Linked DNA regions of Homo sapiens: region 2 is linked to region 1. The links come from fine-mapping of genetic effects on gene expression. A gene starts in region 1. The other region holds a variant in brackets. All regions are shown on one strand. Distances are from middle to middle.

Region 1 (15,514 bases):
CTGGAACAAGGTGCCTGACACAGGATTAGGCACTCGACACATAGCTGGTGAATAAATGTCACGGAATTAGCACACGTGTAGAATCAGTACACACGTTTGGCCACAGTCACTAACCGTAACTGATCAGAAATTAAAATTAACTTGCATGTTCATCAAAACTTCTACATGGCTATCAGCGACTGCCATCTAATTGCCATTCTGCAACTTCAAGAGTACAATTTCAAGAGCGTAATAAAAAAAATCGTATTTAATCACACCATAAAGTTGATCAGCACAAGCAAAAAAAAAACTGCACTATTTGGATTTATACTCACTCTCCTTATGACCCTCCAAAACAAAAATGCTGGGCATCCTAGGGCTATCTCTGACAGCAAATGCCTTCAGCTCTTGACTTAGAAACTGCTAACACACTAGACAAAACACTTCCTTAAACTCTAAGACAATGAATAATACTTTAAACCAGGTTTACATCCCTTAAAACCAATTTGCTCATCAGTAATCGTTAAAGTGGTTGTAACAATAAAGACGTTAATAACAGAATACAGCAAAATAGAAATTCTAATCTACTAACAGCAAATCACCGTTCCAATTGAATGGGGTGTGTGCACAAACACAAGCCTTCCCAGAAGCCTCCAGCTCTCCACACTCCTGCACACAGAAGGCAGCAGTAAACCGATGGCACTGCTGATAAAGTAAATTGTCTTTCTTGACAAAGAACTGGAGGAGAAAAGCAGGATATTATAATCCAACACTATAATCTAAATGCTTCTAGCTTGCAAGAAAGTGAGCGTTATGAACACGCTAAGCTTACTGAAAAGTACTTCACAAAAATGTTTTCCAATGTTTAAAAACATTTTAAAATCTTTACTCAGGTAAACGACAGAACTTAACTCATATACCCCCTAACACCTAAGGCAAGTGGGCTATTGAGTATAGCCATATTTTGAAAGAAACTTCTATTGGGATTATTTCAGTAGATACTTTTAAAATTTACCAGAGCGTAATCTTTGAAATCCAGTAGGAACCATATTGCTAGAAAAGGCTGGAATAGAAGTGTGATGTTCTTTAGGTCACTAATTACACACTGATTTGTGACTAAAGCTACCATGAATTCTACCACTACCTGTAGATCTTGAAATCAGCAAATAGGACACATTCTACACTGCTTAATAAAAAGCACAGTAATCTGTGCTTAAGTACAACTAACTAGGTACAACAGCCACTTTGCTGACAATTACTGTAACTTGGGAATATTTTTCTTTACATCCTGATGTACTCAAACTGTTAACTTTTAGAAACAGCACAGCCTCTGTTTCTTCTGATTAACAGGTTATCTTACATTGTTGATATGGAATATGCATCTACCATAATACAGCTTTGAATAAGGTATTCAAAGTCCTCAAAAACACAGAAAAATTATATTTATACACAATTTGTCATACTGCTAACAAAGCTACTTTTTCCCAAGTTACTGAGGTGTCCAAATAAGGAGTTATTAAAAAATTCAACTTAAATTGCTATTCTCTGGCCAATGCATTTGTACCCTGAAAACTACAAAATTATCTCCAAGACCTGGCTAGAAGTTTACATTTTCTCTGAAAGTTTTTCCTCTGTCTTTTACGCACAGTATTTTTTCTTAATCTGACAAGTGGAGAAAACTCTGCATAGCCATCTACTAACAATCAAAAAGCTACAGGTTTTTTTATTTTTTATTTTTAATGCTCTAAATTCTTCAACACTGTTTCAAGGAAATTACTAGGGGTCACACCCATGAGGCTAAATGGTCAACCCAACTTTCCTAATTTAGCTGTGGAAAGATGCTTCCAAGTTAAGCGAAAGAAAAAGATTGGAATATTCAAAGTTTAAGGTTACAACCTAAACTCTTCAACTTGGGAAGCTTGTAAAGGAAATAATTTCATTTTGCTGAAATTGTTCATAAATTACCAATTTTAAATAGGATTAGAGACCAAAGTACTATAAAAATATAATCATATAGCATATTTGAGTGTCATTAACTAGAAACTGCCTGAATTCATCTTAAATCAGTTAAGGTCAGTTAAGGGATCTTAGTAAGAACTTAAAGTATAACATACTAGTTTTAGTTTCAATATTAACAGATACTGTCATCTGCAAAGTGGTTTTTAAAAACATCCTGATCTGAAAAAAAGTTATAATATAAGGAAAGTGAATTTTTAAAAACTTTAATTAAGCAAGATTAAGCATTGCTATCCGTTTCTCCTATTACTACTACTTAACCAGTACAACCTTAAATATCTGTAAAAATTTGACAGGCCTAACTGCACCAAAAAAAAAAGATTTCAGCAAATTAATTAACTGTTAATAAACTGTTCTATCTTTACCTGCACTAACTCTCTGTAATGAAAACACTGAACGTGTGTATACACACATCTATCTATATATATATATATATATATATATATATATACACACACACACACAACTATGCCCACTACTAGACCACTACACCATACCACTTCTTCCAATGAGCGCTCTCAATTAAACACAATTCAAGTAACCTAGTTAAATACAAGCTTAGGCAATGCCTTTTAAGGCATAAGATCGTTCTTCTGCAAGATTTAAATATTCCCCTCCCCATCCTATCTTTTGCTGACTACATACTAAAGTTGTATATCTGGCTCTTTCCAGTCACCTGTTTGCTTTCAAAATCAAGGGGAAAAGTCTCCTTTCAATTAGTAATACAATCATTGTTCAGTAGATTTATAAACTGAAGAAAAACTCTATATTGATTACAAAAGAAACAAAAACACTTCAGTATAACTGAGATGCTTTGTTATCCTTATTTGATAGAGGTAGAAGTAAAAGTAACTATTACTCCTAACGCTGATTCAAGAAATGTCTAGAGTCTACATTTCCAGTCCACTTAACTACATTTTAAATTCCAAAGGTTTCCAGACACACCAGAAAATAATGGAACACCAATACAGAAACACTACACGAGTCTGTTAAAAACCTAGCTTCTGAGTCTGGGGGAGCTTTTCTATAGGAAGTACAGTCATGTGGAGGTCAGAAACAAGTTTTGTAAAGCTTAATAAGAACAAAGGCTAAGTAAGGAATCCAACTAACTCTCTCATACAACTTCTTCAGCTGTCTTTTCAGGTTTAGTAATTTTATTTCTCAACTTTATCATAAAATTACCAAACTGTCCCCAAATTTCCAGTAACTCAATTATGCTGATACCCTGGACAGGAAGTAATGGAGATGTTCAGAACAGTCAGTCAACAAATGTTCAAATGGAAAGCATTCCAACGTTAAATATAAAAGGGTAATATGTGGCGGCAGCTGGCTAGCGGGGGCTTCCCCCCTATTTATCTGGAAGATAGATGTGTACAAGAATTGAGCATGTCATCGTGAGCTGCAGATTTTAGGAAAGAATGGTCCCTGTTCTTCCACTTCCTTAAAGTCAGATTTCTATCTCTCCTCGTGGTCTAAATTCAAAAACCTTTGCCCCAGATACCACTGCAAATTTGTCTGTTATTACTGGTTGGGGAAAAATAACCCAGTTCACCTTACTCCAAAAACATGAGCATTTCAGAAAAGTTTTTATACTGCCTCTAAAATGAGGCCATTAAGTGATATTCAATAATCAGGCTTCCTTCACCCGAATTTAAGAAATTTCCTGCCGTCTTTGTGTAATACATTTTTTTTTTCTTCCATGTGCGTTTAAATTTTAACACCCCTCCCCCCCGCAGAATCTGGAGAAGAGGTGTGCGGATCAAGACCCCCCCGCCCGCCATTGTCTCAAGTTTAATTTACATGCTGTAACCAAACCCTTCCCTCTTTAGAATATTTAACAAGATTGAGATTCCTTTAATTCCATGTTGGTAGCTGTTCTGTAAATACCTTTCAGGTTTTTATTTTTTAACATCCCAGTAATCTAAAAACTATTCTGTTTTTAGATTTCAATTGTAGTAACTGGATTTAAAATCTTATTACATTTATTTTATTAGTGGAATACTCAGTTTATGCAACTGTCTCATGTTTTTCATTCCTACTTTCTAATTCTAAGGCTTGAAAACAGCCATTGCTCAGTCCTTCAGCTTCACCTTCCCAATTCATTCATTAAACATTCCGCTCAGGGATTAAACTGAAATGGGAAATTAGGAAGGAACGATTTAAAACAAATCATACCCAGCAACCTCAAAATCTATAACATACAGGCCATATGGGCATACAGGAGATGGGACAATTTGAATTTTTTTTTTAAGCAAATGGAAACAAAGCTTCATATAAAACATAAAAAGGGTCCAATCATTTACTTTCAAATAGAGTCAGCTAAAAGTAGCTCCTTTTTTAAAGTGGCATCTTTCAGGCAGTCAAGAGTCATTAAAACTACTCCAAAGTTCTTATCAACCAATATCATGTTTGTGACAACTGTGAGAAAAGAATGTAATTTTATAAAGTGGGAAAACAGCACATCTTTTGGGACCCCTGAGGCTCTAATCAGGCATCTCAGAATTAAGAGTGCTCCAGGGTTGGGAAATGGCTACCCTGCTGTGGCAAAAACATGCCATTTCATAATAAATGTTGTTAAGAGAGAAAAAAGTGATTAGCATGTATCTGCAATGAGGAGATAGAAGGACTTAGTCATTGCCAGGCCATTATATTCCTTAATTATTTCATCAGTTTATAAGTGACTTGATGATTAAGTCTTATTTTCAGATTTCCTCCAAAACAAGTCCACTGGAAGGGGATTAGGGGCTCCTACTCCTCCCTGAAGTTTTCCTGCCAAAAATGGAGGCTCACAAAGAAAAATGCAAATCTACCCCCACCTTAAAAAAGTAAAGGCAGTCAAAGTCAAAACCTTCACTGCTCCTCCTTCCTCCCCTACTACCTGGAAAAAAATTTTGACCTGTTAACCAAAATAGATTCCTCAGGGTAAAGGGGAGAAAAGTTTTCTACAAATTTTTTCTAAGTGGTGTATTAGTTCCTTTTTTTGAGTAAGAAGTGAAAGGGAATAGGAACCCAACACAACTGCTAAACTTCGATCTCACAAGTTACTAAAAAACAGCAAAGGTCAAACTGCAAAGCGTTAGAAAAGTGTTGTGAAGACAAAAGGATTAAAAGAGTGGGACACTAAAGAAAAAAGTGTGTGTCCTTCACCAATAAAAGTCATATCTTGTCCTCTACTTCCTCCTTCTGTAGGCAAATAAAGACAATTCTAAAGGACTAGCTTTCCTCATCACGCCAAATCATTAAAATTCCAAACAAACAGATTATTAATCCTATTCTAACAATTAAAATAAATGATGAATCTGCCTTGGAACTACTGACAACTGTATTTTAAATAACTTACTGCCTCTTGAATTTAAATATAACCGATTAAAAATGGCAGCAACATCAGGGTTAAGAAACAAAACGAAACACTATTAGTCTCCAGAACCCTGAACAAAACAATATCTAAAATAAATATGACTTCCCAGAAGGAAAAAAGTTATCTACCATTAAGGACACACCTTAAAAGTTCTTAGCACACATTAAGTAAGCACAAACTAGTGGCTTGCCTGTTATATTTTCAGACAAAAAGCAATGAGGTTATTCCTCTGCACTTGTCACTGCAGACACATCAAGGCTTTTAGAAACTACATCTATTACTCGTTGTCTAAGTATCATAAAACTTAGCATTTTAAGTCTTGTTTGATATCAATCAAGAAAGAACATCCACTTCAGGGGAAAGAAGTACAGTAAAATAAGAACATTGTAAATCTCCTTCTTGACATATACAAAAGAGAAGGTAAAAGGCCTCCTAAGACCCCTACCTAGTGGCCAGGCCTGGACGGCAGCTGTTGCTACCTCGCCTTTTCTTTTGTTGAGCTTAATCTCATGTCAAGTCATTCAACCAACTCAAAAGCAATGAAGACATAATTGAATCAACCTGAACTAAATCAGACCTAGGCTTCTTAAAACATACAGCTTAATGCTTCCAAACGATCTAGAAAACTGAAAAACCTAGCTACGCTGTAGGACACACAGTGGCCAATAATACAGGACCCCCAAACTGGCCAGTGGACCACTGCAACCGCCATTTACTTTCTCCGTGTTTAGGAATGTTCAACGCTCCAAGCCCCATAGACTGATTCAGGAAGATAAACTGAGGCTCAAGGAATTTCGAGGTAGAACAATACACCAAAGCCTTAAACCTGAAATGACTACCCTTTTCTGGGGGGTGGGGGGAAAGAAAAAGAAAAAAAAGTTTCTGGGGCTCTCAGGGCGGCCCAGATGCCAGGGTCCCAGAAGTGGCCTTTTCTAGCTCCTGTAACTAAACCTGGCGGAAAACTCCCTGCCTGCTCACCCCACCCCCACCCGCCCAAGAAAGCGCCTTCCCGTCTTCGGTGGCCCTACCCAGAATCCCAAAATGTGGGTTCCAACCCGGGCCCTGAACATCTTCTCAAACTCCCGGGACCCAGGTTCCGGCGCGCGCCCCGCGTGCCGGGTCTTGCCCCTCGGGCGGGACCGCCCAGGCAGCCCCAAATCCAGCCTCCCGGGCCCCCAGCAGCGCCCTCCGCCTCTCCACCATCCCGTCCGGCTCGCAGTCGGGGCCAAATCGAGAGACAAGAGGGCTGTGCCTGAAACTGAGCGGTTTCACCACTCGGCACCTCCTGGCAGAAACTTCCCTTAAAAAAAAAAAAAAAGAAAAGAAAAAAAAAAGCAGCAGCACTTTTGGGCTAGCATTTCAATCCTTCCTGCCCTTTAGAGTTCCCAGTTCTGCTTCCAGCTGGCTTTGGGTGTTCCACTAGAATTGAGTTGTAAAGATATTCTTTAAGTGTTTATAGAACATTAAGACTTAAAAAAATCTTTAAAATTAGAGGAGGGAAAAAAAAAGCCACCTTATCGCACACATCCAGGAAACGCAGCCCCGTGCATCCCTGTTCAGGGATGAGCAGGCGCCCCAAGACTCCCGGGGACAGATTTTTGGGCACCCGAGGGAGTCACGGGGCGCGCGTCGGGGTCCGCGGCGAGGCCCAGCCCCTCCCGCGGTCCCTTAGAGGCGCCCTCCGCCCGGCCCGAGTGGACCGTCCCGGCCATTGTTTACGGGGGGATGCCCGTCCGGACGCATTGTTTTGGCCGCTTCCAACTTGCCCCGGCCCTTCCCCGGGCATCGCGGGGGGACCCTACGCCGACGTTCCCCCTCCGCCCGCGCCCCAAGGGCCAACTGGGCAAATTGGGAGACCCGCCCCGCGGGGCGACCCAACTTTTCGGAACAGCCCCCCACCGCCCACCCCCGCAGACCCCCGCTCCCGGCGGAGATTCAGGGAACCCCGCACCCCAAGCCCCTCTGAATCGTGCGGCGTGAGTGTGACGGCCAAGAGCGGATGCAGCCCGGGATCGCCCGCACCTTCCCGCGGGCGGAAGCGCAGGAGCCGGCTGGGGAGGGGGCGCCCTAGAGGAGCGGATAGAAAGCTGAGACGGGGAACTGAGGTCATCCTGGGGGGGGACAAGACAACGAGAGCCGGGCGCCTCGGGGGCGGCGCGGGAGCCTCCGCAGGACCGGGCGGGCGCCCCGGCTGGCGCGGGCGGGGGGCGCGCCCCCTTTACCTGCGGCTCCGGCTCCTCGGCCATTTCCTCGCGCGGCGGCGGCCGGGACTGAGCTGACACCACTCGGGCCGGCCGGGTTTGAATGAGGAGGAGCGGGCGCGGAGGGGAGGGGGCGGGGAGGGCGGAGGGAGGGAGGGAGGCGTCGCGGAGTTTCTCTCAGCCTTTTGTGCGGACACCTCCCGGATTCCGCGCCCGCACCCGGCCCCCCAAAAGACACGGGGAGCCGCGGGCGAGGGGTGCAGCCATCCGCCGAGGAGCCTAGTGCCTTCGCGCCTCCAAGACCCCCCCCCAACAAAAAAGGAGCGTCCCCCACCCCCACCCCCGCCCGGAGAATATAGGGGCCGGGCTCACCTCGGGCGCGGGGCTAAGGTGAGCGGGGCGGGGGTGCGCACGGGGGCAAAGGCGCGGGCGCCCCCTACTCGTCCGCGCGGGGACAGTGCAGGCGCGGGGGGTCCCTAGAGCCGCCGGGGCGCGGCGCGTCCGGCGCTGGGGGACTGTTGGGTCAGAAAGTGTTCAGGGAGCAGCTGTTGCGCCCTCCCTCGGCCCCGCCGCTCGGAGACGCCCCGCCCCCTGCCTTCACCGGCCGCCCCGCCCCCTGCCTTCACCGGCCGCCCGGCCACGCCCCACACCGCCCCGGCCCCGCCCCAGCGCCCACGTGACTAGCATAGGCGCGCCCCTGCTCCGCCCCCCGCCGCCGACTCCGCCTCCGGGACGGGAGCGAGCGGCGAGCGCGCGCACTCCCAGTTCTCGCTCGGCGACTCCCGCGCACGCGCGCGCCGTGCCACCCTCCCCGCGCCCCCCGCCCCGCACCCCTCCTCCCGCCATCCGGCTTAACGTGGCGGGCGCGCGCCGCGGCGGTAGCCGTGACAGGTACCCGGGGAGGCCGGAGGGAGGGGGCCGCGAGGGTGTGCGCAGGCGCAGATCCGGCCCTGTCCCCGCCGCCCCCTCCTCTGCAAGGTGTGCGCGGGCGAGGGGAGGGGCCCGCGGCCCGAACCCCTGGGTCACCCCGAATTACAAACAAAAACCTTAACGCCGTTGCTCGCGGGTTAGAAGGCAGCTGTGCGCGAAAAACACCAAAGATTTTCTTCAAGCTTGAGGAAGGTCGAGAAGATAAACAGTTTTTAAATGAGTATCTTCAGAAAGCTATTTAATTGTTGTGATTTTTTTTTTTCTGAAAGGGCTGGGCTTGCGCTATTCTAACTTGAGATTTCTAAACTTAGCCTAGGTTCCAAGAATCTACTTGGTTTTGATAGAAATCCATTTGGAGGAAACCGGGGACAAAAAAAGGGACAAAAAAAAAAAAAAAAAAACCGCTACCCTTTCCCCTCCTCCCTACGCACAACTCATTTAAAGCGTTTCCCAAATGTTTTCTTTCCTTACTGAAAAAAAGGACAAAAAAAAGATCCTGATTCCTAAGGCCTGTGATATTTCCCCATTTTAAATAAGCTTCGAGGAACCATAGACATAACAAGCACATCCACAATTTTTCTACCCCAAAATGCAAACTAATGCAAATGTGAAATGGATCTATGCAAGTCGCTACTAACAAAATAGCCAAATATTTGTGTTTTTACCGGCCTTCAGCATATCCAAAATGAAAAAACTTTAAAACACATCAAGAAAAGCATTTAAAATATCTATTTCCTAAATCAAAAGAAAGAACGCACTACAGAAACGATCCGGAGCTGGTGAGCAATGCAATCTTAATAAATAGGAAAAGGAATTTGAGAAGACAGCTCAGCAAAGGGGAAGAATTTGCCAAGTGTCATGTTTTGCTGTCATTTTATATATAACTACTAACCCCACATATGGTCTGGTTAGTCTTTTTTAAAAAGGAAGCGAATCAATTACTCACAATTAATTAGCAGTGCCAGTAGATTCTTAGGCCAGCACTAAAAAACTAAATTGGGTGAATTTTTTTTCACTCAAGTCCACTGATATTGATCACTTTTAGTATTAGGATTCCTTTTCTGACAAAGGATGAATACCTATCTTTAAAATATATTTTTTAAACTTATTGTCACATTCTAAAACACAGTCCAAAAACACTTCATAAACAAGAAACTTCATTTAACTTTATGAAAACAAATGACTATGAGCCTTGCTACACAACAAAGAAACTATGACCAAGTGGAACCAGGTTGAGCCTGAAGTGTAACCTCATTCTACATGTTAATGGATAACCTTTGAACTCCGAGACCTTGAATGCTGTAAACACAATAGCACTGATAGTTAAAAATTCTAGTGTCAAAATCGAGCAAAAAGAAAAGTCCAAACTTTTCAGGGGGAATAGGGAAACAATCAAATATTTTGACAAATAATCGTTTCAGTAAGAACAAGGAGATTCCTGGCTCTCAGACCTTGTTGCTACTGAATTATTTTCTGAGCAAAAACGGTTGTGCTTGTTTTCCCCCTGTGCCCTCCAAAGCTACCACTTTGTTCACATTATAGCATCATGATTTGTTACTGTTTCGCCGCCTCTCTCAAAAAAAAAAAAGAGAGCGCCTTATTATGTTGTAGCTTTTAAAACTGAAAGATGATTATAATTCACTGATCTGTCTGCTAAGAGTTTTATTTATATGTGATCCTCCTTATGTTTGAGCAAAGAATTACAAAGAACCTTGTCCTGGAGTCGTGCCAACGAAACTGGGAAATCGTTGCAAAATTCTGCCAGTGACTGACTGCTGGGTTGCAAATACATACTGTGTTTTCAGAAGGACATAGAGGGATCTGAATTCGCCTGGGAGGGCTTTTCCCTAAGACACATTCTTCCCTTAGAATGTGAGACTCATACTTCCCATTTATTTGGAAAGCATGTATAGTTCAAACAATTAAAATATGGAAACTCCAAAAGTAACAGGAGAACACTGGAAGCATTTGGTTTTGTAATAAAAGCTAGGAACTCATACTGCACAAAGTGAAAATTGAAAATCGAACGTTGGTCTTCCTATGCTTAGCTCCACCCACAAGAAATCCAGCTTCGCCATCACTCCCTGCGTAGGCCATCTCTAAAGGAGTCAGGTGCTACTAGATGCCAGCAAAAAAACAAAGAATGGAACCAAAAGAGAAGCTCTGCACATGGTACTTGGAGAAGGGGCAGAAAATCCCCACTTCACCTTCTTTCAATGCAGCAAACATCAGCTACACCTCATTTTTCACAATCATCCAAACAGGCCCTCCTTAAGACATATTTCCTAGTATGCGCTTATAAAATCACACCATTATCTCTAATTTAATCCTAGTGATATAAGGCCTCTTCGTTTAGCCAACATCTGATTTTCTATCCAGATCCTGCCAGTCACAGCATGCTCAGATCTAGTAACATAACAAAAAAAAAAAAAGAAAAAAAAAAAAAAAACTTCTGATTTGCTGTATTTAACACTTACTGGAATCCTCTTTTGAGACTCAGCCTTAATTAGAAGAACAGAATGAGGTAGGATCTTCTTATTTCACAAGACGTTATTTTACTGTGGAACTATTATAGAAAAACTATTTGGAAACTGTGTGTAAATCCCTGGAGCTGAAACAGAGCCAACATAGATACGGGACGTAAAAGAATTCAGTGTTCAGAGCAGGAAAACCTGAAAAACTGCAGTGAGGAGTTAGCAGGAAAAGAACATGAAAAAGTTAGGCAAACCTGCCAGCATCTGCAAACTACAAAGGACATTTGAGAAGGAAACAGGGACAGCCCTTTGAACAAGACTAAATGCACTCAAGTAAGTAGGAATAACAAACAGCTCGAAGGAGCACCACATTGCTCTTTTCTATTAAGTTTCTTGATCCCATGCAAGTCACTCTTCTGTAAAGTATCACAATAATATACTATTAAAAAAATATATTTATATATATGTATATATATATATAGCAGAACTTACCTTTCAGAAGAGAAGGCAGGGTCTGGAACCTGATAACTCTGTAGGACTTCACTCTACCTGGCTCCAAACAATACTGGAAGAGATGTGATTGCGGGTTTTTATAAGCACAGCAAAAAGGGAGGGGTCAAGAATAAGACTTAATTTAAATAAAGGTTTCAGTACCCTCCCAACTTGATTGGATTAGTCAATCTTGATAAGGTTGACAGCATTTTTTAACTGGATTTGTCCTATTCGATGAGTGCCCTCCCCCACTGCAAACACAACTCATGACTCCTCTAATATTCTGGATAGTTTTCTGAAATTACCTTCACTCAAAATGTTAATGTAAAAACTCCCTTAAAAATTGCACACAAAACACAACACTGGGAACGCCTCTTTAAAGTTTTCTGCCTTCATTAGATATTCCAAACAGGAAGTTTTGGAATGAGGGACGGAGGGGAAGAAGAGGGTGACTAACATTAATTGAAATTCAATCATCATTATAATCTCAAGCCAGAATCTTAAAATCTAATCAGGATATTTCATCTCCATCTACTCCACCCTACACAGACCTTGCATCCATCAGCAAACCTTCATATGTCTCAATTGTGTCCATTTATCTTTATCTCTAACAAAAGCCTACACCAGGTACCACTGGCAGGTGCCATGCACGTGAACGCGGAGTCTGCTGTTGGAAATGTGTTGGGAAGGGAGAGTTCCCGGTAAGAATTATGTATTTAGGAGCTTTCCAAATACTGATGGCATGTTGAGCCATCAGACTGGATAAAATCACACGAAAGAGGTGCTAGTATTGGGCCCTTGGGTGGTTCAGCGCCTGGAAGTCAAGGAGAAGAGAAAGAGAGCAAAGGGGACTGAGAGGGAGCAGGCAGTGAGGTCTGAGGGACCGCAGGAGAGCATGGGGACCCAAATGCAAGGGAAGAAAGGGTGTCAGCTCCATCACGTGTTCTCCTCCAGACAGAGACAGTACTGTATATGCAGGTTTCTCCAAACTTCTTCCTTTCTAGGTTTCCCTTAATGCTTTCTCTACCTATAATCCAAGACTTTTACCCAAAAAGACTTTTACCACGGATATCAGATAAATTCACCACCCCTTAATGGCTTCCTATTGCCTTGAGGGAAAAAAAACTCCACAGCTTCCCCCACCAGCTCTGCAGATCTGGTCCCTGCCTAACTCCAGCCTCAAGTCCTGGCAAGCCCTTCACTGAGGCATCTGAACTCCAGCCTTCTCTCTGACCTAGAGCCTTCAGCCCTGGGGTTCCCCTTGCCTAGCACCTCCTTTCTCATTCTCTTCAAGAACTTGGCTTCTGTTCTGAGAGTGGTTTAAAACCCCTAGTTCCCTGGGAGGGGGAGGAGGGGGGAGGCTCTGACATAGTGTCCTGGTCATGAACATCTTCTCTCCAATAACTTGGGCTCAGATACTCAGATTCTACCTCTGGAGAGCTGCATAACCCTAGAATATTATTTAATCTCTCTCAGGTTTCAGTTTCCTTATCTATAAAAGGGGAATGATGAAGATGATGAAGACGACAATTATAATAATTGTTTGTGTTACTTATATAAGTAATAGTCACATTTCTTCAAGACTCTGGAGAATGAAATGAGACACACTACAAAGCTTGTGAGCCTAGAGTTTTGGGGGCCCTGGCACTGTTCTAGGCATGGGAGATAGAACATTAAGCAAAACAAACGAATTCCTTGTCCCATTGGGGCTTATCTTCTTGAGGGAAGCAGACAACACACTGGTAGTTATATTTACAACCTACTGGGACTGGGTCATAGGAGAGGGGAAAAGCCTGCTGTTATAGATTGAGGCTCCCTGAGGAGCAGAGACCTCCCAGGAAGTCAGGTGGCAAATCATACCGGGATGGGGAGGAGTGTTCCATTCATTCAGAGGGAACAGAAGGTGAGAAGGACCAAAGAGGAAGAGAGCCAAGCTTGGAGAAAGAATTGGAAGGCAGCCAGTGTGTCTGGGGGCCATGGAATGAAGACAGGATAGGGACAGAGGAGCAAGAAATCAAGGCAGGCCCGTGTGAAGACCGGGGATTTGACTCTCGTTGCAGCAGGATATCAGTGATCAGTTCTCTGTTCCCTAGTATTTGCCAAATCTGCAACACTTGATAGAGCTCTTTCCTGCCTTGCAGTTGGGTCCCCATGCTATCCTGATCTCCGTCAGTCCTCGCTGGCTGCTCCCTCCCAGTCCCCTTGGCTCCTTCTTTAGACTCTCTTCTTTGACTTCCAGGTGCTGACATGCCCAGGGCCCAATGCTAGCAACACTTTCTTATTCATGTGATTTTATCCAGTCCGAAGCTTCAGCATGCCATCAATATTTGGAAAGCTCCTAAATGTCCATATTTCCCACCTGGAACTCTCCCCTCAACTCCCAAAACACATTTCCAACTGCTGATTTTGTCTCTACATGAGAGGTCCCTGTGTTTACAGGGCAGAAATGTAGACCGTCCCATTCTAAGCGGCCACAATTGACCTTTTCAAAAGTCGTCGTCTGGTTATGTCATGGCCCTCATGCGTCTTAGAATAAAAACAAATTCCCGATAACACAGCCCTCATGCATCTTAGAATAAAAACAAAGTTCCCGGCTGGGCGAGATGGCTTGTGAGATGGCTCATGTCTGTAATTCATAATTCCAGCATTTTGAGAGTGAGAGTTGGGAGGACTGATTGAGTCCAGGTGTTTGAGACCAGCCCGGGCAACATAGCGAGACCCCATGTCTACAAAAAAATAAAAAATTAGCCGTTGTGTGCCTATACTCCCAGCTACTCAGGAGGATGAGGTGGGAGGATCACTTGAGCCAGGGAGGTTGAGGCTGCAATAAGCCGAGATTGTGCCACTGTACTCAGCCTGGGCAACAGAGTAAGATCCTGTCTCAGAAAACAACAACTAAACAAAAAAAAAACAACAACAACAAAACAAAACAAAAGTCCTGAGAACATGGCTGTCAAGATCTGGTGGGCCATGCTAAGACTCTGGGATTTATTCCAAGAGCACTGGGAAGCCACTAAAGGAAATGGAAATAAAACCAAAAGAACCATTGAACGTCAAGTAACTGTTTCTTTCCCAAGAGATGTTAATGTCTCCCAAAAGACCCCATCCTGGTTTAACAAAGAGGATATGACAAACTGTAAGAAGTTGGAGTCCTGCTGGGTGTGGTGGCTCACGCCTGTAATCCCAGCACTTTGGGAGGCCGAGGTGGGTGGATCACGAGGTCAGCAGTTCGAGACCAGCCTGACCAACATGGTGAAACCCTGTCTCTACTAAAAACACAAAGGGAGGCAGAGGTTGCAGTGAGCTGAAATTGCGCCACTGCACTCCAGCCTGGGTGACAGAGTGACACCCTGTCTCAAAAAAAAAAAAAGAGAGAGAAAAGAGAAAACTAAGGCTCAGGATCATTCAGTAACCTGCCTGAGGTCACACAGCTAACAATTTGTTTCCCTACTTTCCCGACTACAATGAAGCCAATGCACTAGTTGAACCCAAGGTCAGACTCCCCCTTTATCACCAACCTAAATTTCCTCAATTCTAAAAATTGGCACTGATGCATATTTCTTGACCCCCTATTTCCAGGATGTTTACCAGTCAGTCATGTGTGGCTCTGGGGCAAGGTTGAAACGTCCGCACCCACTGTCCTCCCTTCCCCACATTCTGGAACAGCAATACAGTGTTTCACTTGGTTGCCTGAGGGCTAGTTTCCTCCCACCTGTGTCACTCCCTTGAGTTCTTGGTATACCTGTATTCAGGACCCTCTTTTTCACCAGACTGTAACAGACTGTAAATCTTTTTTGTTTGTTTTTTTTTTTTTTTTTTTTTGAGACGGAGTTTCGCTCTTATTGCCCAGGCTGGAGTGCAATGATGCAACCTCGGCTCACTGCAGCCTCCACCTCCCGGGTTCAAGCAATTCTCCTGCCTCAGCCTCCTGAGTAGCTGGGATTACAGGCGCCCGCCAACATGCCCTGCTAATTTTTTGTATTTTTAGTAGAAACAGGGTTTCACCATGTTGGCCGGGCTGGTCTCAAACTCCTAACCTCAGGTGATCCGCCCGCCTTGGCCTC
Region 2 (15,514 bases), 49 kb after region 1:
CACCCCAACTTCCCCTCCAGGCTCTTCTCTTCACAGTGCCATTCATGCCACTGATCTTTGTTGAGTTCCCACTATATGCCAGATACGTCAGGACACATTACTGCAAACAGACAGAAACCTTGGTCTTCATGGAGGTAACAGCTTAGGGGTTTGGGAGGGGTCAGTAAAAAAAAGATAAACAAGACAGTAAGTTAAATATAGAGAAAGGCAAATGATGATAAGCTGTTAAGAAAGAAGGATAGGGCCGGGTGCAGTGGCTCCTGCCTGTAATTCCAATGCTTTGGTAGGGCAAACTGGGAGAATCGCTTGAGGCCTGGAGCTCAAGAGCAGCCTGGACAACATAGCAAGACTCCATTTCTTAAAAAAAAAATTTTTTTTTTTGAGACAGAGTTTCGCTTTTGTTGCCCAGGCTGGAGTGCAATGGTATGATCTGGACTCACTGCAACCTCTGCCTCCCCAGTTCAAGCGATTCTCCTGTCTCAGCCTCCCTAGTAGCTGGTATTACAGGTGCATGCCACTATACCCGGCTAATTTTTGTATTTTTAGTAGAGACGGGGTTTCATCATATTGATCAGGCTGGTCTCGAACTCCTGACCTCAGGTGATCCACCGCCTTGGCCTTCCAAATTGCTGGGATTACAGGCCTGAGCCACTGAGCTCGGCCACAAAAAAAAAGAAAAAAAAATTAACAAATTAGCCAGACATGTTGGCGCCCAGTTGTACTCTCAGCTACTTCAGGGGCAGGCTAAGGCAGGAGAATCCCTTGAGCCCAGGAGTTCGAGGCAGCAGTGAGCTAGGAATGTGCCACTGCACTCCAGCCTGGATGACAGAGTGAGACAGAGAGAGGAAAGAAGAAGGAAGGAAGGAAGGAAGGAAGGAAGGAAGGAAGGAAGGAAGGAAGGAAGGAAGGAAAGAAGGAAGGAAGAGAAAGAAAGAGAGAAAGAAAGAAAAGAAAGGAAAGGCCGGCCACAGAAAGAAAAGAGAAAGAAGAGAAGAGTAAAGAAAAGAAATGAAATGAAAAGGAAGAAAAGAAAAGGCGAGGTACAGTGCCTCATACCTGCAATTTAAGCACTTTGGTAGGCTGAGACAGGAAGATTGCTTGAGGCTAGGAGTTTGAGACCAGCCTGGGCAATGTACCAAGACCTTGTCTCTACAAAAATTTTTAAAAAGTTATCCAGGCTTGATGGCACATGCCTGTGGTCCCAGCCACTCGGGAGGCTGAGGTGGAAGGATCACCTGAGCCCAGGAGGTTGAGTCTGCAGTGAGCCATGATCATGCTATTGCCCTCTAGCTTGGGCAACAGAGCAAGACCCTGTCTCAAAAACAAAAAAAAAAAAGAAGAAGAAGAGGAAGAAGAAGAAGAAAAAGAGGAAGAAGAAGAAGAAAAAGAGGAAGAAGAAGAAGGAGGAGGAGGAAAGGAAGGAAAGGAAGGAAAGGAAAGGAAAGGAAAGGAAAGGAAAGGAAAGGAAAGGGAAAAGGGATAGGTTGAATAGGGATTGTGTGTGTGTTTGTAATTTTTGAGAGCATGGCCAGGGAAGTACTCCCTAAGGCAGGGGGTCAACTAATTACGGACTGAGGCCAAATCCAGCCTATTGCCTGTTTATGTACAATGGCAAGCTAAGAATTGTCTTACATTTTTAAATAGTTGAAAAAAGTCAAAGGAAGAATGTTTTCTGACACCTGAAAGTAACTTATGTGACATTCTATCTCAGTGCCCACAGTGAAGTTTCTTTTTTTTTTTTTTTTCTTTTTTTTTACCCTGAGTCCCGATCTGTTGCCCAGACTGGAGTTCAATGGCATGATCTCGGCTCACTGCAACCTCTGCCTCCTGGGCTCAAGCAATTCTCCTGCCTCAGCCTCCCGGGTAGCTGGGATTACAGGGGTGTGCCACCACGCCCGGCTAATTTTTATTTTTAGTAGAGATGGGGTTTCACCATGTTGGCCAGGCTGGTCTTGAACTCCTGACCTCAGGTAATCCACCTGCCTCAGCCTCCCAAAGTGCCGGGATTACAGGCGTGAGCTACCGTGCCCGGTATCAATGAAGTTTTATTGGAACACAGCTATGCTCATTGGTTTACTTACTGTCTGTGGTTGCTTTTGCCTGACAAAGGCAGAGTTGAGTATCTGCCACAGAGACCCTGTGGCCCACAGAACCTAAAATATCCACCCTCTGGTTTGTTTGTTTGTTTGTTTGTTTGTTTGAGAGGGAGTTTCGCTCCTGTTGCCCAGGCTGGAGCGCAATGGTGCGATCTTGGCTCACTGCAACCTCTACCTCTCAAGTTCAAGCGATTCTCCTGCCTCGGCCTCCTGAGTAGCTGGGATTACAGGCATGTGCCACCAGGCCTGGCTAATTTTTTGTATTTTTAGTAGAGAAGAGGTTTCACCGTGTTAGCCAGGATGGTCTTGATCTCCCGACCTCAGGTGATCCGCCCTCCTTGGCCTCCCAAAGTGCTGGGATTATAGGCATGAGCCACCACGCCCAGCCTACTCTCTGGTTTTTAACCATTCGCTGACTCCTGCCCTAAGATGTCATTTGAAGAGACACCTGAGGCAGGTGAGGGAGCCAGTCATGCATTTATCTGGGGGAATATTCTAGCAGATGTCACAGCAAATGCAAAGACCCTGAAATAGGATGTCTGCTGTGTTCTTGGCAAGGCATGAAACTCACTATGACTGGAGCAGAGTGGATGAGGTCAGAAAGCAAGGATGGACCAGATCACGCACAGTCTTTGCTCCTAGCCTGAGGCAGATGGGAGCCATGGCAGGTGTGTGTGTGTGTGTGTGTGTGTGTGTGTGTGTGTGTGTGTGTGTGAGAGAGAGAGATAGGGTTTTGCTCTGTCATCCAGGCTGGAGCACAGTGGTGCAATCATAGCTTACTGCAGCCTCAACCTCCTGGCCTCAAGTGATCCTCCCACCTCATTCTCCCAAGTAGCTGGGACTACAGACATGAGCCACCATGCCTGGCTAATTTTAAAATTTCTTGTAGAGATAGTGTCTGACTACGTTGCCCAGGCTGGTCTTAAACTCCTGTCCTCAGGTGATCCTCTCACCTTGGCTTCCCAAGGTGCCGGGATTATAGCTGTGAGCCACTGCACCCACCCGCCATGGCAGTTTTGAGGCAAGCGGTGATGTGGTCTGGCTTATTTTAACAGGATCTCTCTATTTTAAGAATAGACTGGCTGGGCACGGTGGTTCACATCTGTAATCCCAGCACTTTGGGAGGCCAATGCGGGTAGATCACCTGAGGTCGAGATCAGCCTGGCCAAAATGGCAAAACCCCGTCTCTACTAAAAATACAAAACTTAGCCAGGTGTAGTGGTGTTTGCCTGTAATCCCAGCTACTTGGGAGGCTGAGGCAGGAGAATACCTCAAATCCGGGAGGCAGAGATTGCAGTGAGCCGAGATCACGCCACTCCACTCCAGCCTGGGCAACAAAGTGAGACTCCATCTCAAAAAAAATAAAAAGAATAGAGTGAAAGATAGAGTGAAAGGGAGGGCAAGAATGGAAACAGTGAAACTAGCAATGAAGGCATTCTAATAATCTGGATGACAAATGATGAGGGGTTGAGCCAGGGAGCTGACAGAGGAGCTGGAATTTATCTAGTGGGATTCTACATCCATGTTGAAGGTACAATAGACAGGATTTGCTCTAGACTAGATACATGAGGGAGCAGTCAGGGATGACTCCGAGGTTTCTGGCCTAAGCCAATAAATGCTGGACTCTCCTTTACCAGAACTGAGAAGACTGTGGGAGGAAGACAAGGTACTCAGTTTGTGTTATAGTAAGTTTAAGATGCCTTTTGGATGTTCCAGTGGAATTGTCAAGTAAGTAGCTGGATATGGAAAGCAAGAGCTGGGAAAGGTCTAAGTTTGAGATACATATGTGGGTGTCAGCATCGTAGGGCCATAGCACTGGACGACATCACTGAGACAAGGGATGCAGATGGGAAAGAGAAAATGTAACTCATACCATGCTTATTGCTTACCCCATCCCACAGATGACCTCTCCAGTGGGCTTTCATCTTTTTGCATAATAAAATCTAAAGTTCTTACCATGTCAATGTTTCCAGAGCACTAGTCTTACCAATTTTCTCCTGGCCTATCAGCTATTAATATCATTGCACTATCCTTTCCTTTCTTCTGGCCGAGCCAGCTCATTCAGCCCTGGGGTCTTTGTCTGCAGTCTCCTCTGCCTGGAATACTCATAGACTTTTGCATGGCTTGCTGGTTAACTTTATTCATAGCTTGGTCCAAATATGAGCACTGCAGGGACCTTCCCCAACTCCTTTAACCAAACAGCTCCCCATTCATCTTGTGTCCATGACCCTGTTTTATTTTCTTTCTACCTATAAATTTGTATGTTTAGTGTTTGTCTTCTTTGGTGAAACTGTAAGCTTCCACTAGGGCACGGAAATTGTCTTACCGTTGAGCAAAGCCTGACATCATAGAAACTCAAATATGTGTTAAATTTAATGAGTAAATAAGGGAGGTACAATAATTTTCTGCTATTTACATTCTGCATTTTCTACCCAAAAGCCTAGCAATGTACCCCATAAACACTCAGTTTAGGAGAAGGCTTTGGGCTCAGTCACAGGCTTCAACACTAGACATGCAGGCAGTAACAGAGGGGACTTGGGAACCAGAGAGTGCACCTTCCAGACAAGGAGGGCAAGATAAAACATTCCTGAGTTTGGGCAGTTTTATATGACGATCAGGATAGACAACTATAAAATAAAGTGAGATGAGACGGGAGGAACAGGCAATGGTTAGACAGTCCCTTTCCAGTTCCTTGTCTGCCCTATCTTTGCAGGTGAAGGGGCTTCTCTTGGGTGTTTGGCAAGGCAAGTTTTGGTCTGATTCTGCATGGGTGAAGATACGAACACCAGGATGGAAGACTTTACAGGGATATCCAAGTTGCAGCCAAACAAAGTCTCACTCTGTCGCCCAGGCTGGAGTGCAATGGCATGATCTCAGCTCATTGCAACCTCTGCCTCCTGGGTTCAAGCGATTCTCCTGCCTCAGTCTCCTGAGTAGCTGGGATTACAGGCACCCTCCACCACGCCCGGCTAATTTTTTGTATTTTTAGTAGAGACAGTGTTTCACCGTGTTAGCCAGGATGGTCTCGATCTCCTGACCTCCTGATCTGCCCGCCTTGGCCTCCCAAAGTGCTGGGATTACAGGCGTGAGCCACCGCGCCCGGCCTTCTTTATTTTTTTGAGACAGAGTCTTGCTCTGTTGCCCAGGCTAAAGTGCAGTGAGTCCAATCTTGGCTCACTGCAACCTCCGCCTCCTTGGTTAAAGGGATTCTCCCGCCTCAGCCTCCTGAGTAGCTGGGACTATAGGCGTGCACCACCACAACCTGATAATTTTTGTATTTTTAGTAGAGATGGGGTTTCCCTATGTTGACCAGGCTGGTATCGACCTCCTGGCCTCAGATGATCCACCCGCCTCGGTCTCCCAGAGTGCTGGGATTACAGGCGTGAGCCACTATGCTTGGCCACAAAATGACTTTCTGTAGGTCTCTGCCAACAAAGAGAATCAACTTTCATCTATTCCTAAAATAAAAGCACCTTGGAGAAGGAAAAACGAGAAAAAATGAGCAGTTATGGGCTGGGTGCATTGGTTCACGCCTGTAATCCCAGCACTTTGGGAGGCCGAAGAAGGTGGATCACAAGGTCAGGAGCTTAAGACCAGCCTGACCAATATGGTGAAACCCTGTCTCTACTAAAAATATTTAAAAATTAGCCAGGTGTGGTAGTGTGTGCCTGTAATCCCAGTTACTCGGGAGACAGGCAGGAGAATCGCTTGACCCCAGGAGGCGGAGGTTGCAGCGAGCCGAGATCGAGCCACTGCACTCCAGCCTGGGCGACAGAGCAAGACTCTGTCTCAAAAAAAAAAAAGAGCAGTTATGTTGAAAGGACAGAACTTGGAAGGGCAGCTTGTTGAAATATAAAAGGAGGGTATTTTAGGGCAGTGAAACTATTCTGTATGATACTGTAATGGTAGATACATGTCACTATGCATTTGTCAAAACTCATAGTCCTGTACAACACAAAGAGTGAACTGTAATGTAAACTATAAACGTTAATTAGTAATAATGTATTACTATTCGTTCATCAAGTGTATCAAATGGACCACATCAATGCAGGATGTTACTAATAGGGGGAATTGTACAGATGGAAGGAGGGAGTTGGAGAAGAGGGCATATGAGAACTTGTCACACCGTCTGGTCAATTTTCTGTAAACTAAAACTCCTCTAAAAAAATAAAGTCTGGGTCGGGCGTGGTGGCTCATGCCTGTAATCCTAGCACTTTGGGAGGCTGAGGCGGGCAGATTACCTGAGGTCAGGAGTTCGAGACCAGACTGGCCAAAATGGTGAAACCCCGTCTCTACTAAAAATACAAAAAAATTAGCTAGGCCTAGTGGCACACGTCTGTAGTCCCAGCTACTCAGGAGGCTGAGGTATGATAATTGCTTGAACCCAGGAGGCAGAGGTTGCAGTGAGCCGAGATCATGCCATTGCACTCCAGCCTGGGTGACAAAAGCAAAACGCCCTCTCAAAAATAAATAAATAAATAAAGTCTGTTAATTTAAAAATAAATAAATGCTTAAAAGGCACTCTGTCTAATGAGTACAAAAATTGGAAGGAAAATGACCCTTCACTTCACTGTTGCATGAACAGGAAATGGAAATGTTTTTGGGCATATGTATCTCTTGGGAGAGTGAGGTGGAAAACAATACCAGCCACCATTCTTTAATTTGGATTGATCCACTGTTCTTGATTTTGAATAGCAGGTGGCTTTGCTGTGGTGTTATTGTTGTTGCTCTTTTTTTGTTTGTTTGTTTGAGACAGAGTCTTGCTCTGTCGCCTAGGCTGGAGCATAGTGGCGCGATCTCGACTCACTACAACCTCCGCCTCCCGGGTTCAAGCGATTCTCCTACTGGGATTACAAGCACATGACACCATGCCCGGTTAATTTTTGTACTTTTAGTAGAGACAGGATTTCACCATGTTGGTCAGGCTGGTCTCGAACTCCTGACCTCGTGAACCACCCACCTTGGCCTCCCAAAGTGCTGGGATTATAGGCGTGAGTCACTGTGCCCGAACGTTGCTCTTTAATGTTAGTATTTTGTTATCCCAAAGAAAGCTCTCAGACCACGGAGACTCTTAAAAGACAATATCAAATGTTTCAACAACTGACAAACCTCAGACTTCCTGTATTTCTGTAAGTTGCAGTTTTCCCTTCCTTCTTCTTCTAATTTGTTAATATCTCTGGGGCCACAGGCTCTCTCTCTCTCACACAGGTCTCTAACTAGATCAGTGGATCAAAGGTGAGGCTTTGCTAAGTAATCAGGGTAATTTCACCGGTGTAGCAAGCTATTAAAAACAGACCTGCAGGGTTTTTCAAGGACAACCAAGGTATTGATTTGGCAACCAAAAACTCCTGTAGTGCAAGCAATAATACACCAGGGCCAGTGTTTCCAACACCGTCACAACTCCTCCCCCTCCCTGTCCCTAGTGACATTACAAAAGGCACAGCTAAGGCCGATACTCCAGCTCCTATGCCCCTGCTCCTGTCTTCAAAAGGAACGTCACTGTTATAAATTAGACAAGGGAAGAAAAACCTCATTTCTTTGATGATTTTTTTAAAGAGCTTTGTTTTCCCACGCATAATTGTTCTTCCTATTCATTATGCCTTTATGTAGACTTTGCTTTTTCCTTTAAAGAATACACTTCTTATGTAATTTGTTTTGCATTTCTGGAATGAGGAACTTTTCTGCTCATATTGTTGTTAAAATCTAGACAACACGCCCGTGTGATAGATCACCCTGAGCCTTGGAAGGAAATGATTCA[C/T]CACAATACTGTAACTGAAAGTCGTCTAACACCAGGGCTGGAAGGCAGGCTATGAACCGCTGCATTACCTGCGTGCAGCAGCAATGGGAGGCAGCCAGAGGTTCCCTCGGCCTGCCTAGCTCACTTCAGCTTTGTTCCTGTTCTGTTTCCTCCGTCCGAGTAGCAGGATGCTGGAAATTCATCCTCCATTTTTAAGTTTTAAAAGAAACCCAAAAATTGTGATTTTTTTTTTTTTTTTGACACCGAGTTTTGCTCTTGTCACCCAGGCTGAAGTGCAATGGCACGATCTTGGCTCACTGCAACTTCTGCCTCCCAGGTTCAAGGGATTCTCCTGCCTTAGCCTCCTGAGTAGCTGGGATTCCAGGTGCCCAGCATATGCCCAGCTAATTTTTGTATTTTTAGTAGACTCAGTGTTTCACCATCTTGGTCAGGCTGGTCTTGAACTCCTGACCTCAGGTGATCTGCCCATCTCAGCCTCCCAAAATGTTGGGATTACAGGGGTGAGCCACTGCACCCAGCTGGGATTTTTAATAAGCCACATCTGCCCAAATGGGCCTTTCCAGGCTACTGTCTTATAATTTTGCACTTAAATTTGTATTTAAACCACACATTAATGCACTGTATGGAAAAAGTGAACACCAAACATACCTATTACTAATAAAAAGATTTCAAACAATAAAGCCAAAAGAGCAGAGAAACTAAAAATAAAAAATATGTATTTTATTTTCCTCTGCATGTTTTTGGTGAAGGCAGATCATAGATTACGCCCATGTCAGAAACAATGCAATTTTATAATTCTTATGAAAAATGGGCCAGGCGCAATGGCTCATACCTGTAATCCCAGCACCTTTGAGAGGCCTAAGTGGGTGGATCACCTGAGGTAGGGAGTTGGAGACCAGCCTGACCAACATGGAGAAACCCCGTCTCTACTAAAAATACAAAATTAGCTGGGCATGGTGGTGCATGCCCGTAATCCCAGCTACTAGGGAGGCCGAGGCAGGAGAATTGCTTGAACCCAGGAGGCAGAGGTTGCAGTGAGCCGAGATCGCTGGTTGTGGTGGTGTGCACCTGTAGTCCCAACTAGTCTGGAGGCTGTGGTGGAAGAATCTCTTGAGCCTGGGAGGTTGACGCTGCAGTGAGCCAAGATTGTCACCGAACTCCAGCCTGGGCAACAAAGCAAGACCTTGTCTCCAGAAAAACAAAAACAACAACAAAAAAAACTAATTAATATTTCAGTAAAATTTAGGTATAAATTTGGCAAGAATATAGTTCTTCACTTTTTTTCACTATGCTGCTCTTTTCTAAAATCAATTGATGAAATTTAAAAATTCGAGTGAATGTGTGTATGAAAACTGAATTAATCTGATATTTTCTTATATAAATTTGATTTCCATGATTACAGCTGAAATTGAGTTTAAGCTAACACAAATATTCAGGTGGTTTCCCTCCCTCCCTCTGTCCCTCCCTCTTTCTCTTTCTTTCTCCCTTTCTTTCTTTCTTCTTTCTTTCGACAGGATCTCTCTCTGTCGCCCAGGCTGGGTGTGGTGGCGGGTGCCTGTAATCCCAGCTGCTGGGGAGGCTGAGGCATGAGAATCACTTGAGCCTGGGAGGCAGAGGTTGCAGTGAGCCGACATCAGGCCACAGCACTCCAGCCTGGGCAACAGAATGAGACTATGTCTCAAAAGAATAAATAAAATGAAATGAAATGATGATAATAATAATAATAATAGTGCTAGTCTTAAGAGTGGGCTGTGCGGCTGGGCGCAGTGTAACCCCAGCATTTTGGGAGGCTGAGATGGGTAGATCACCTGAGGCCAAGAATTCAAGACCAGCCTGGCCAACATGATGAAACCCGTCTCTACTAAAAATACAAAAATTATCCAGGCATGGTGGCGCGCACCTGTAATCCCAGCTACTTAGAGACTGAGGCAGGAGAATCACTTGAACCCAGGAGGCAAAGGTTGCTGTGAGCCAAAGATCATGCCACTGCACTTCAGCCTGGGCGACAGAGCAAGACTCTGTCTCAAAAAAAAAAAGAGTGGGCTGTGACAGATGGATGACAATCCATTGAAAGCAGGTCTCAGCCATCTAGGTCAATCTGGGCAGCTGCTTATTTCTGTAAATAAAGTTTTATTGGAACACAGTTGAGCCTACTCATTTACATATTGGCAATGGCCTCTGTTCTACTTCCGGTTAAGACAAAGCCTCTAGCGCTCAAAGCCTAAAACAGGTATTAGCTGATGCTTTGCAGAATGTTTACTGACCCCTAATCTAAAGTATTTAGTACAGTTACTCGCATCTGGAAGATACCTGCTATTTATATGTTAAGTAAACTCAAAGGCAAAGATCAGCTTCTGTTTATCATTCTTCCTTTCCCTGGGTTCAGCAAAGGCCTTGCACATGTAGTGTGTGCTTTGTGAAATATGAAGTTAACATAATTCATGACAATAAAATATAATTGTCATGATATAGCATTCAGAGAAAGTTGATAAGTAATAAAACTTTGGGCACAGTTTCAATTTAAAATAATCCCAATCTACTTTTTCAGTATTCCGTAATTTCAGTTAGAGTGCAAATAATTATGTAATATTGGAATGCCATTCAACTGGCTTGTATTTATGTGAAGAGAAGTTGGTCAATGTGAAAGGAAACCAACATTACCATCTTTTTTTTTTGAAGCTGTAATGATCATAAAATGTAAATGCATTCTGCAAACTTCAAATAATGTGTTTTAATGGCCTAAACCCCTGGTAAAGTTAGCTTTTAGAGCAGACACAAAATAAAATTGGGTCCTGAATACTGGTTGGTGCATCATGGGGTAGAGGCAGAGGAAGAAAGAGGGGAGAGGCCAGGCGCAGTGGCTCACGCCTATAATCCCAGCACTTTGGGAGGCTGAGGCAGGCAGATCACTTGAGGTCAGGAGTTTCGAGGCCAGCCTGGCCAAAATGGTGAAACCCTGTCTCTACAGGAAAAAAAAAAATTTAGCTGGGCATGATGGCAAGTGCCTGTAATCCCAGATACGCGGGAGACTGAGGCAGGAGAATCGCTTGAACCTGGGAGGCAGAGGTTGCAGTGAGCTGAGATGGGACCACCGCACTCCAGCCTGGGTGACAGAGCGAGACGCCATCTCAAAAAAAAAATAAAAGAAAAAAAAAGAAGAAAGAGGGCAGAAAAAGAATGGAGCGAGATATCATTAGCTCACCACTCCAGCTGAAAATCAGTTCAAAGTAGAGCTCTGTGCCATACCAGTCCCCAGCGTGGGCACTTCTAATTACAGTCAATGAGCATTTTGTTTGTAAGGGAGAATTTTTTTTTTTTTTTTTAATAGGGACAGGGTCTCACTCTCTCGCCCAGGCTGGAGTGCAGCAGCATGATCATAGCTCTGCAGCCTTGAACTCCTGGGCTCAGTTGATCCTCCTGCCTTAGATTCCTGAGTAGCTGGGACTACTGGGACTACAGGTGCAGGTGTGAGCCACCACTCCTGGCCTTGGGGAGAATGTTAACTTCTAAGTAGAACTTAACCAGAGGCAACACTCAAGAATTCCCAAGAGCAGCAGGCATAGTGGCTCCCCCATGCCAGCATTTTGGGAGGCTGAGGCCAAGGATCCCTTCAGCCCAGGAGTTCCAGATGAGCCTGGGCAACGTAAGGAGACCTCATCTCTCTCTCTCTCTCTCTCTCTCTCCCTCTCTTTTTTTTTTTTTTTTTTTTTTGAGACAGGGTCTCACTCTGTTGCCCAGGTTTGGAGTACAGTGGCACGGTCTCGGCTCACTGCAGCCTCAACCTCTTGGGTTCATTGCCTCAGCCTCCCGAGTAGCTGGGATTACAGGTGTGCACCACCATGACCAGCTAATTTTTGTATTTTTAGTAGAGACAGGCTTTCACCAGCTTGGCCAAGCTGGTCTGGAACTCCTGACCTCAAGTGACCCGTCTGCCTTGGTCTCCCAAAGTGCTGGGATTACAGGTATGAGCCACTGCGCCTGGCCATGGATTTATTATTATTATTTTTTACTTTTTTATACAAAGACAGTAACCCCAAGAGGACAGAAACCTGCTCACAGCTGTATTTGGCACCTAATATGACATCTCGGAGGTATTCGAGGCTAATTTGTTGAAAAGTATGAAAGCAGGTTCTGTTTTTTTGGCTCTGTTGCCCAGGCTGGAGTGCAGTGGCGTAATCTTGGCTCACTGGAACCTCTGTCTCCCAGGCTCAAGTGATCCTCCCACTTCAACCACCCCAGTAGCTGGGACTATAGGCATGTGCCACCACAACTGGCTAATTTTTTATTTTTTGGTAGAGATGGGGGTCTTGCTGTGTAGTCCAAGCTGGTCTCAAATTCCTGGGTTCAAGTGATCCGCCCATCTCAGCCACCCAGAGTGCTGGGATTATAGTTATGAGCAACCGTGCCCTGTTAGCGGGTTATGTTCTAACCCCTGACAATGAACATTTTCCCTGCTCTCCTGGAGTGTATGTTTTAGTCAAGAAAGGCTGAAAGCGATCAAGAGAGCAAACAAGTTCATTATTAATAATCGTGATAATTGCTCTGAAGGAAACGGGGCCTAAGGTCAGAAAACCAGAATCATAATTTTTGTTCTTGACCCAGGGCCAGGCACAATATTTCGACGATGCCAAAAACTCAGTGATTTACATAAATTATACATATATATACGATTTTTTTCTTTTTCTTCTGTCACCCAGGCTGGAGTTGCAGTGGTGCGATCATAGCTCACTGCAGCCTAGAACTCCAGGGCTCAAGTGATCCTCCCACTTCAGCCTCCTGAGTAGCTAAGACCACAGGGGTGCACCACCACACCTGGCTAATTATTAATTAATTAATTATTTCAATGTTTTATTTAAAAAATTATTTATATAGAGATGGGGTCTCACTGTGTTGCCCAGACTGGTCTCAACCTCCAGGGTTGAAGCCATCCTCCCACCTCAGCCTCCCAAAGCGCTGATATTACAAGCATAAGCCACTGCACTGGGCCTATATAAATAATACTTTAGGCTGGGCACAGTGGCTCACGCCTGTAAGCCCAGCACTTTGGGAGGCCGAGGCGGGCGGATCACCTGAGGTCGGGAGTTTGAGACCAGCCTGACCAACATGAGGAAACCCCATTTCTGCTAAAAATACAAAATTAGCCGGGCATGGTGGTGCATGCCTGTAATCCCAGCTACTCGGGAGGCTGAGGCAGAAGAATCACTTGAACCCAGGAGGCAGAGGTTGCGGTGAGCTGAGATCGTGCCATTGCACTCCAGCCTGGGCAACAAGACCAAAACTCCATGTCAAAAAAAAAAAAAAAATTAGCTGGGCATGGTGGCATGCCCCTGTAGTCCCAGCTACTCGGGAGACTGAGGCAGGAAAATCGCTTGAACCTGGGAGGCGAAGGTTGTGGTGAGCCGAGATTGAGCCACTGCATTCCAGCCTGGGCAACACAGCAAGACTCTGACTCAAAAAAAAATAATAGGCCAGGCATGGTGGCTCACACCTGTAGTCCCCGCATTTTGGGAGGCCGAGGTGGGCGGATCTCTTGAGGTCAGGAGTTTGAGACCACCCTGGCCCTCATAGTGAAACCCCGTTTCTACTAAAAATGGAAAAATTAGCCAGGCGTGGTGGTACACGCTTGTAGTCCCAGCTACTCAAGAGGCGGAGGCAGGAGAATTGCTTGAACCTGGGAGGCAGAGGTTGCAGTGAGCCAAGATCACTTCACTGCACTCCAGCCTGGGTGACACAGCAAGACTTCATCTCAAAAAGAAAAATAAAAAAAATCAAAATAGGCCGGGCAACATGGCTCACGCCTGTAATCCCAACACTTTGAGAGGCTGAGGCGGGCAGATCACAAGGTCAGGAGTTCGAGACCAGCCTAACCAACATGGTGAAACTCCGGATCTACTAAAAATACAAAAAAAAATGACAGGCATGGTGGTGCGTGCCTGTAATCCCAGCTACTCAAGAGGCTGAGGCAGGAGAATCACTTGAACCCAGGAGATGGAGGTTGCAGTGAGCCGAGATTGCATCACTGCACTCCAGCCTGGGCAATAGAGTGAGACTGTGTCTCAAAAAAAAAAAAAAATCAAAATAAATGCAAACAGCCCATGATGAACAAAATATCAAACTTTTATATAATGACAGAACTGATATTAGGGTAAGGATGGCAAGGTGAGCCCTGCAATAGTTTCTCTGCTCCCGTTGCTTAATCTGCAAAATGGGATAAAATGGGATTGTATCTACCTTTTTTTGTTTTTGAGACGGAGTCTCCCTCTGTTGCCCAGGTTGGAGTGCAGTGGCAAGATCTTGGCTCACTGCAACCTCCGCCTACCGGGTTCAAGCGATTCTCCTGCCTTAGCCTCCTGAGTAGCTGGAATTACAGGCGCCTGTCACCACGCCCGGCTAATATTTTTGTATTTTTAGTAGAGACAGGGTTTCACAATGTTGGTCAGGCTTGTCTCGAACTCCTGACCTCAGATAATCCACCCGCCTGGGCCTTCCAAGGTGTGGGATTACAGGCATGAGCCACCGTGCCTGGCCTAGTATCTGCCTGTTTTTGTTTTTGTTTTTTTTTTTCTTTTTGAGACAGAGTCTTGCTCTGTCGCCCAGGCTGGAGAGCAGTGGCGTGATCTTGGCTCACTGCAACCTCAGCCTCCCAGGTTCAAGCAATTCTCCGGCCTCAGCCTCCCGAATAGCTGGGACTCCAGGCACGTGCCACCATGCCTGGCTAATTTTTTGTGTTTTTAGTAGAGACCGTGTTTCATCATGTTAGCCAGGATGGTTTCAATCTCCTGACCTCGTGATCTGCCTGCCTTGGCCTCCCAGAGTGCTGGGATTACAGGCATGAGCCACTGCGCCCAGCTTAGTATCTGCCTTTTAAGGCTTTATGAGGATTTGTCCAGAACTTCACACAGGAAGAGCTCAATACATGCTTATTACTCTTTTATTATTTTCATCAATATTATTAATCCTACGGTTGTGTACCACAGAACAAATATTTAAGCAATAACATCAAAATTTCAGAAAACTAAATGGGCTAGTTACTGTATTTTGTCGAACCTAAAACGTCACCATTTGTGAGATTTTCCATTATTTTATTTACTTATTTATTTATTCTGTAGAGTTGGGGTCTCTGTCACTATATTGGCCAGGCTGGTCTCGAGCTCCTGGGCTCAAGCGATCCTCCTATCTTGACCCTTCAAAGTGCTGGGATTACAGGCATAAACCACTGCATCTGGGCATGTTCCATTATTTTACGGACTATTAAATAAATGTTTTCAAATAATAGCAAGATGCCATTGACTGCAAAATACATATTGATTTTAGTTATATTAAAATGTAAAAACTAAAGTGCACTTTAGAATTGATAAAATATAATATTTGGGCCGGGTGCAGTGGCTCATGCCTGTAATCCCAGCACTTTGGGAGGCCAAGGTGGGCGGATCACTTGAGGTCAGGAGTTGGAGACGAGCCTGGCCAACACCCCGTCTCTACTAAAAATACAAAAATCAGCTGGACATGGCGGCTGAGCGCTTGTAATCCCAGCTAATTGGGAGGCTGAGGCAGAAGAATAGCTTCAACCCGGGAGGCGGAGGTTGCAGTCAGCTGAGATCCCACCAGGGCACTCCAGCATGGGCGACACAGTGAGACTCCGTCTCAAAAAAAAAAAAAA

Evidence for each region.
Region 2: its variant is fine-mapped to the expression of ZNF217 in whole blood (INTERVAL, PIP 0.96).

What each region holds. Positions count from the first base shown.
Region 1 is chr20:53,586,181-53,601,694 of GRCh38, forward strand. ZNF217 (zinc finger protein 217) reads right to left here and starts at 7,659. Exons shown (of 6, transcript NM_006526.3): 1 at 7,576-7,659. RefSeq lists silencers at 6,370-6,609, 7,030-7,179, 7,670-7,749, 7,840-8,679 and enhancers at 10,480-10,529, 12,120-12,620.
Region 2 is chr20:53,635,449-53,650,962 of GRCh38, forward strand. No RefSeq gene overlaps it. Among named protein-coding and RNA genes, the nearest start is that of ZNF217, 49 kb to the left of the region's middle. RefSeq lists enhancers at 7,831-7,880, 7,921-7,970. The variant C/T (reference allele first, on the strand shown) is at 7,855.